2 separate regions of the Homo sapiens genome follow, and region 2 is linked to region 1. The links come from fine-mapping of genetic effects on gene expression. A gene starts in region 1. The other region holds a variant in brackets. All regions are shown on one strand. Distances are from middle to middle.

Region 1 (4,389 bases):
TGCACCACTTGTCCTTCAGCAGAAAAAGCTTCAAAGAATTCAGAAACACCTGGAAATCATGAGTGCAAATCTCCAACTACAGCGAGGGCAAATGACCTTTTGTTTCCCTGCTGGGGAGCAGTTTAAGTTGAAAACTAGAGAGAACACATGTAAATTTTCTTTGTAGTAGCAATTTGTAGATAAGGAAATTGAGATGTATCCCACATTACAAATTTCAACCGTTGATGGCTAACACCAAATGATTTCTAAAAGATTTAGATCAACACCCTCACTGAAAAGGCATTATCTGAGATGCCTTCCACGCAGGCTGGGGTTCCATATTCCCCTTTAGAAAATGACTCGATACATTAAGTACACTTGAGTCTTTTTCTCCTATTCCTCCTTCCAACCCAACTTGTTACTCAGATTTGAGATGTTTTCCTTGCTTTTGTGTTTACCATCCAGTTTTTATTTCAAGTCTATTAAATCTTAAATTTCCTTCCAAAGAAAACAATCAAAATAAAACTGGCATTGCTAAAATTTTTTGTTTTTAAGAACAGCAGCAAATGCACCTTTCCTATACAAGATGGCCCTTTTCCCACCTATGAAACAATTCCTAACATTGTTCCTAACATTTCTGCTTTAGAGTAACTAGTTATGTGTAGAAAGAAAATTTGTTTTTTTGGATATGCCTTTGCCTTCAATACCTCCTTTAGCACCTAATCGTAACAGCTTTAGAAAGGACCTCTCCCAAGTTGTAGAATGTCCCCAATGACATTTTAAGTATCCATCCTTTTAAAACTCAACATGTCATCTCTCTCCTCCCACAGCTAGATTTCCTCCTTCACAAAACCAGCCACTGTGTTAACTTTCCTCTAACACAAAGCCCATACCCTAAATATCTTAGGTGCTTAAGTGTCTGTCACACCATTCTGTATATGGCAAACTGTCCTCTGGCTACTCCAAGAATGTAAGTGATTATATAAGTGCATCCCCAAAGCACATCATTTCCCCATTTTCAGAATACAATTAATTGCTGGCAAAATCCCAGAATTCAACACTTTTCACTCATGGAAAAATAGTGCTTGGTGGGGGAAGAAGCGTTAGGTCTGTAAGAATGACTTTCTTTTTTTAATAAGATGTGGTAAAGACCTGGTAGTTTAATTCCTTACCCTCTTGCAGATGTAATAGGAAGCCCTTTACAAATATCACAATAACGCAACTTCGAAAAGGCAAAAAAAAAAAAAACAAAACAGGAAACCTATTTGAAGCCATTTCTTGAGGTAAAGTACAAAGATGCATTTCTAACTCCAAACCAAGTAATCCAAGAAATTTGTCGAATTTCCCTCCTGACTAGGTCAAGATAAAGGTACCCCATTCCAGCAATCCAGCTGCTAACACTGCTGTCCAATACCCCTTCCATAAATAGCTCGGTCTGGGATTACATCGGCAGGCATTTTGTAATTTAAAAATTCGTTACCCCGAGAAACGTCCTGATTAACTCGGCAACTGGGAGCCCGTCTACCCTTTCTTTAACTCCGCAGCCCCCTCTCCCCTCGGTTATCCAAGCATTTTCCACTTAAGAAAAAAAGCCCCCCCTTCCCTCGACTAGAAAGAGGGGGGAAAAAATAAACGGTTCGGTCGGGGGGGGGCGCTGCGATACAGGGGGAGGGGCCGGACTAATAGCGCCTCCCCGTGTGGCTGCGCCAGCGCCTGACCCCCGCGGGGAGCCGCGCTCACCCGCCCGGCCAGCAAGCCGGCCATCGCCTCCCCCAACCCCCCACAACCAACAAATCCACCGCCGCCCCCCCTACCGCGCGCGCGCCCTCCCTGACTCCTGCGCAGCCGCCACCGGGAAAAGGCGGGGGGAGGGGGGAATAGGCCTTGCGCGAGGCCTACTAGGCCGCGCCAGAGCCAGGGCCTCGCGTGAATGACCGGCCTGGCACAGTGAGGTGGTAGGCGCTCACGCGGGACTACGCGAGACCGCGGCTCGTGACTAGGACCCGAGCCGGCTAAGAAGAAGACAAAAGTGGAAATTGTAGCCATAGCCGGGGGCGCAAGGGAAATTTTTAGGCTTACCTGCAGGCGCGAGGCGACTGAGGGGAAAAGGGGAGCGGGCGGGAAGGGGAAGGGCGGGAGGCCGGGGGCGGAACAATAGGGGCGGGCGGGAAGGCGAGGGGGGCCCCGCGGGCGGGCGGAGGAGGAAGGGGGGGTGGAGGAGGAGGAGGAGGAAGGGGGAAAGAGACCCCGGGGCGGGTGGAGGGCGGCGGAGGGCGGGCGGGCGGGCGGAGGGCGGGCGGGCGGGAGAGGGCGCAGGCTGCGGCTGCTCCGGCTGCTGCCTCTGCTGGTCTGGGAGGGGGACGGGGCGGAGCGGCCTGCTTTCAACCCCGCGCACCCTTCGACCCCGGAAGCGCTAACCACCCCGGGGGCCGGCGAGGCGATTGCGTCGTCCAAGCCTTCCCCACGCAATGCAGACGGCCTCCCAAAAGCCTAGAGCGGCTCCTTTGACAGCGTAGGCACCAGCGAGACAACGGCTGCTAGCAAGCGACGAATTGCGATAGAGAGGGAGCGTGGGGGCAGAAAGGAAACCAGTGGCCCCTAGTGGACTGGCTGGAAAGTTCAGATGTTAGTGCGGAGAGGGAGCAGTCGCCATGCATCAAGAAGTGGAGAGGAGGAAAAAGGGATGGGTGGAAAGAGAAAGGATGAAGATAGTAATCTACAGGGATACTCAAAAAAGAAAAGGAAAAAAACTAACTTGCCACGTTAGAGGTGACCATTGTATAAACTCCTTACTCTTAAAAGGAAAGAATTAAGCATTTAACTTTCCTTTTAGGAAGAACTGTATATAGTTCATCTGTAATTGATAAGGGAAAGCTCTTTTTTAAAGAGTTCCATGTAATAAATCTAGAAGGAATGAAAGAAATAAAAGGAATGAGAGTTGAAAAGTCACCATTTTGCAACCCAGAATGAAATAATTGATTCAGGCAAGTGTATCAATCATTAAAATTTTGAGAAAGGTTGTTAGGGAACGGGATACTATCATGACACCAAATATCAAATATCACCACACAGATTTGCAAATATATATATATATATATATATATATATATATATATATATATATGTAATTTTTTTTTTAAGTAACTTCAAATGGGCCAGGGGTAGTGGCTCACGTCTATAATTCCAACACTTTGGGAGGCTGAGGCAGGCAGATCGCTTGAGCTCAGGAGTTTAAGATACCATCTCTACTAAAAATACAAATATTAGCTGGCGTGGTGGCACATGCCTGTGGTCCTAGCTATTTAGGAGGCTGAGGTGGATGGATCACTTAAGCCCTAGTGGTCCAGGCTACAGTGAGCCATGATGACGGCCACTGCACTGTAGCCTGTCTCAAAAATAACAAATTTTTTTTTGAGACGGAGTTTTGCTCTTGTTGCCCAGGCTGGAGTCCAATGGCATAATCTCGGCCCACCACAACCTCAGCCTCCTGGGTTCAAGCGATTCTCCTGCCTCAGCCTCCCGAGTAGCAAAAATAACAAATTTTTTAAAAGCAACTTCAAATGGAGAGATCTAGCAGTTACCACCTTACCCAAGTACATAAATGATCAAACTGCATCACTCATAGTAGGACAACTTTGCACCGTGTGGTCCTTGGAAAAATGCAACAAGTACACCACATCATCTATTAAATATTCTTGCCAAAAGTGCTTAATCTTAATCTAATCAAGTCATTAGATCTGATTTGCAATTTATAGGAAATTTAATACAACACAAGGAGATATTTTGCAAACCCACAACATTCCACAAGACAGCTAGCTGGTCTTGTCAAAAAAGCAATGGAAAAAAAAAAAAGAAAAAAATTGGCCAGGTGCAGTGGCTCACACCTGTAATCCCAGTAATTTGGGAGGCCGAGGCGGACGGATTACTTGAGGTCAGGAGCTCAAGACCAGCCTGACCAACATGGAGAAACCCCACCTCTACTAAAAATGCAAAATTAGCCAGGCGTGGTGGCGCATGCCTGTAATCCCAGCTACTCGGGAGGCTGAGGCAGAAAAATCACTTGAGCCCAGGAGGCGGAGTTTACGGTAAGCCAAGACTGCGCCACTGCACTCCAGCGTGGGCAACAAGAACAAAACACCGTCTCAAAAAAAAAAAAAAAAAATTAGTTGAACATGGTAGTATGCATCTGTAGTCCCAGCTACTCAAGAGGCTAAGGCGAGAGGATCACTTGAGCCGAGGAATTCAAGGCTGCAGTGAGTTATGATGGCACCACTGCACTCCAGCCTGGGTGACAGAGCAAGACCCATCTCTTAGTTAGTAAATAAAACAAAAGCAGGAATTTAAAAATGCTTAAGGCAATAACAACCAAATATAATGTGTGGCTTTTGCTTGGATCCTGGGTTTCTTTTT
Region 2 (4,376 bases), 27 kb before region 1:
GTACAAAAATTAGCTGGGCGTGGTGGTGCATGCCTGTAGTCCCAGCTACTCAGAAGGCTGAGGCAGAAGAATTGCTTGAACCTGGGAGGCAGAGGTTGCAGTGAGCCGAGATTGTGCTACTGCACTCCAGCCTGGGCGAGAGTGAGACTCTGTCTTAAAAAACAAATCAGTAAGCCACTGGCTATTAAAATGACCCCAGCAAAGAACCCCAAGGAATCTCACTCCATTTCTACTCTTTCTCACAGGGCCCTCCCAATTCTGAGGACTCAGACTGTGACAGCACTGAATTGGACAACTCCAACAGCGTTGATGCCTTGCGGCCCCCAGCTTCCCTCCCTCCATGAAAGCCACTCGTATTCCTTGTACATAGAGAAATATTTATATAAATTATATATATATACATATATATATATATATGCGCCACATAATCAACAGAAAGATGGGGCTGTCCCAGCCGTAAGTCAGGCTCGAGGGAGACTGATCCCCTGACCAATTCACCTGATAAACTCTAGGGACACTGGCAGCTGTGGAAATGAATGAGGCACAGCCGTAGAGCTGTGGCTAAGGGCAAGCCCCTTCCTGCCCCACCCCATTCCTTATATTCAGCAAGCAACAAGGCAATAGAAAAGCCAGGGTTGTCTTTATATTCTTTATCCCCAAATAATAGGGGGTGGGGGGAGGGGCGGTGGGAGGGGCAGGAGAGAAAACCACTTAGACTGCACTTTTCTGTTCCGTTTACTCTGTTTACACATTTTGCACTTGGGAGGAGGGAGGCTAAGGCTGGGTCCTCCCCTCTGAGGTTTCTCAGGTGGCAATGTAACTCATTTTTTTGTCCCACCATTTATCTTCTCTGCCCAAGCCCTGTCTTAAGGCCCAGGGGGAGGTTAGGAGACTGATAGCATGTGATGGCTCAGGCTGAAGAACCGGGGTGCTGTTTAAGTCCCTGCTTTTATCCTGGTGCCTGATTGGGGTGGGGACTGTCCTACTGTAACCCCTGTGAAAAACCTTGAAATATAACACTCCATGCAGGCCCAGCTGTTGAGGGTTTTCTTGATGAATGAATGGGGTACCATACATGGTTAAGATAAAGCCTTGGGCTCCGGACTTTATCTGAGGTGTCTGGAGAAGTTCTCCTGCCCCTCCACTTTTTTGCATCTACTCTCACTAAATGAGTATAATGTCAAGCCCCAACTTTCTAAAATTATAGGAATAAATGGTAGCAGATACATCCTTCTAACTTGTTATGGAGGACTATAAATGAAGTTACTAAAAACAATAGACTGAAATTTTTAGTTTAAAATATGCAAGCCTGAACAAGGGGACCAACATTCCCAAGAAACTGGAACCCAGTCAGACATATGATCAACTGCTTAATGTGTATGCCATGTATGTCATGTGTCATTCCTTTCCCCCACCCCCTCCCTAGTGGAAGTGCTTGCCTACTCCCCTAGGACAGGTAAGTCCTCGGAAAGTCTAATCCTCAATCTTTTGGGCACAAGTTTTATAAGGGCCAACCAAGCATGGAGTCAGGGAAAAATAGGATCGAGGGCCACAAAAAAAGATGGAAGTGGTAAAATAGAAGAAAACATCTTAACCGGAATAAAGGCTTCCATTCAAAACCCAAGAAGGGTCCTTTGAGGGATAAAAGGTACAAAAATAACAGCAAGACAAGAGGAATAAAACCCACATGAATCACTGTGGCATCCAGTTTCTATTCACAAAGAAAAAGCTCCAGTCCATCTTTTAATTTTTTTGAAAAATTCCTGACATTACAGAACTAAACTGAAATGTATTAATATTCCACTCTTACATTTCCATGACAAACAGAAAAATTCATGAGCCAAAAAAAAAAAACCAGGGAGAAGCTTATAAAACTAAATATGGATCTCAGCATCAACAGCTGAACAGAGAAAGGAATTAAAACGCTTTAATTAAAAAATCAC[G/A]AGTGGATGATAAAGTGTGTAGAAACTGAAAATTTACAAACTATTTAAAACCTGGAATCGCTGACTGTTCAGAAACTACACAGATGGATCATGGGTGGTGGTGAACAGCAGAAAGGGATTATGGATGAATCTGCATTGTTCTAGCTGCTCCCCATGCCACCCGTCTCCGAGGAAAGCCTGTAACACAGAAACAAGAACTCAGTTAGTTTCCCCAGTGCTCAGCTGCACCTCATCTCTACCTGGTTCATGAAATGTGAAGAGTAAATAACCAGTGCTGGAGTACCAAGGGAGACATTTTAAGGTTTCTTAAATTTACCAGTACCATGATCCTTTAATCCTTGCAATTCAAGCATGTGGAGGTCTATTACCTCAGAACCAAGGGAAACAGCCCTTGTTATCCAATGTCCCTCAAACTATGTTCTCTTTTAGTTCCACCTCCATGGTGGGCTAACCAAGGAGTGTACTTTCTGGAAACAGGCCCCTCTAAAGAGTGCTCACAATACACAGAAGCAATGTTTCTTTATTGCTGAGCTCACTTTGGCTCCTCCCAAACTGCTGACAGAATACCAGTTTAGGAAAGAAAGAGTCATCTGAGAGTAGTCTCAAGGGTTTAATGCTGAGACAACTCAAGGCCTTTACTTTAAAGCCCTGGAGTTCTATCAATGTGTAGGGTATTATGAGGTAATACCGTTTTAAAGGTAAAAAAAAAAATGTTAAAAAGAGATGTAAAAAGAGTAACTATGGGTCAAGAATTATACTCAGATTTACTTATTTATTGAGACAGAGTCTAGCTCTGTCACCCAGGCTAGAGTACAGTGATGTGATCTTGCCTCACTGCAACTTGTGCCTCCCTGGCTCAAGCAATTCTCTTGCCTCAGCCTCCACCTGATAGCTGGGATTACTGGCAGCCACCACCACTCCCAGCTACTTTTTCTATTATTAGTAGAGACGGGGCTTCAACAGGTTTCCCAGGCAGGTCTTAAACTCCTGACCTCAGGTGATCTGCCTGCCTCTGCCTCCCAATGTGCTGGGATTACAGGCATGAGCCACCGCGCCTGGCCTTATTTATTTATTTATTTTTTTGAGACTGAGTTTCACCCAGGCTGGAGTGCAATGGCGCAATCTCAACTCACTGCAACCCCTGCCTCCCGTGTTCTAGCGATTCTCCTGCCTCAGCCTCCTGAGTAGCTGCAATTCCAGGCAGCTGTCACCATGCCCAGCTAATTTTTGTATTTTCAGTAGAGACAGAGTTTCACCATGTTGGCCAGGCTGGTCTCAAACTTCTGACCTCAGGTGATCCACTTGTCTTGGCCTCCCAAAGTGCTAGGATTAGGCATGAGCCACCACACCCGGCCTTAAAAAGTTCTTTAAAAAGTTTTCAGGACTTAAAAGTAGCAGACAAAATAATTTGTTTCAACTCTGTAGCTCACTCTACAAGCTCCTAGATCTTGTCAAGCCATATCCTCCATCTAAACATACCTGGCTACAATGCCTTTCTGTTTCAAAGAGATAGTCATTTGAGGTCCTGGAATCCAATTTAGGGCTTTCAGGGAAAAGTATTTAAGTACTCAGTATGCTTCACTGGTAGGTAGGTAGGCAGCAAGACTTTGCCCTCATTTTGAATAGAACCAAATGTATAAGACTTCATTTCAGTTCATAAGATAAGTTATTTCATAAGATTTTAAACTGATTAGCATAAAATATTTGTGATATGTGGTCATGAAAACATGATTGGTAATTCACCATCTGTATCCCTTCCACAACAATGCAAAGCCAAAAGCTGGGTAGAAAAGCAAGGGCCAAAAAACTGCAAAGTCCTTCGACTACAAACTATTTACTTTTAGTCAGAAATGGTTTCTCCACCTCAGTATTAAGGGAATATTTAGGGTTTTTTTTTTTTTTTTTTTTTTTTTTTTTGAGACAGAGTCTTGCTTTGTCACCCAGGCTGGAGTACAGTGGCGCGGTCTCGGCTCACTGCAAGCTCCGCCTCCCAGGTTCACGCCATTCTCCTGCCTCAGCCTCCCGAGTTGCTGGGACTACAGGCGCCCACCACCATGCCCAGCTAATTTTTTTATGTTTTTAGTAGAGTCGGGGTTTCACTGTGTTAGCCAGGATGGTCTTGATCTCCTGACCTCGTGATCCACCCGCCTCGGCCTCCCAAAGTGCTGGGATTACAGGCGTGAGCCACCGTGCCCGGCAGGGGATATTTAGTTCTTAAAAGGGGGGTAGATTCGTGCCAATTTCAAAACACAATGATCTAAGGAAAGGTAAACAATAGCCCTGGATTAAAGGGTTCAGTAAGAACTGAAGGTCTAAGAAAGGAACTGCTAGATACCATTAGATCTAGGACCTGAAAATTTAAGTTCATAAAAATTGGTGGTAGCACTCTGGCCCCACCAGAGCTCTGAAAGAAATGTTCTGAATGTGTATCAA

What was found. PIP is the estimated chance that this variant, and not a neighbour inherited with it, causes the effect.
Region 2: its variant is fine-mapped to the expression of PCBP2 in B cells (Fairfax 2012, PIP 0.95). The same link has a PIP of 0.9 or more in NK cells, monocytes and monocytes after interferon gamma.

Annotation. Positions count from the first base shown.
Region 1 is chr12:53,450,046-53,454,434 of GRCh38, reverse strand. It overlaps PCBP2 (poly(rC) binding protein 2), which reads right to left and starts at 2,333. Exons shown (of 15, transcript NM_031989.5): 1 at 2,059-2,333. RefSeq lists silencers at 1,602-1,851, 1,872-2,001, 2,222-2,321 and an enhancer at 2,502-2,601.
Region 2 is chr12:53,477,150-53,481,525 of GRCh38, reverse strand. It overlaps PCBP2 (poly(rC) binding protein 2), which reads right to left. Exons shown (of 15, transcript NM_031989.5): 15 at 364-2,120. The coding sequence ends at 2,084. It overlaps MAP3K12 (mitogen-activated protein kinase kinase kinase 12), which reads left to right. Exons shown (of 14, transcript NM_001193511.2): 14 at 246-1,857. The coding sequence ends at 344. Among named protein-coding and RNA genes, the nearest start is that of PCBP2-OT1, 15 kb to the right of the region's middle. The variant G/A (reference allele first, on the strand shown) is at 1,944.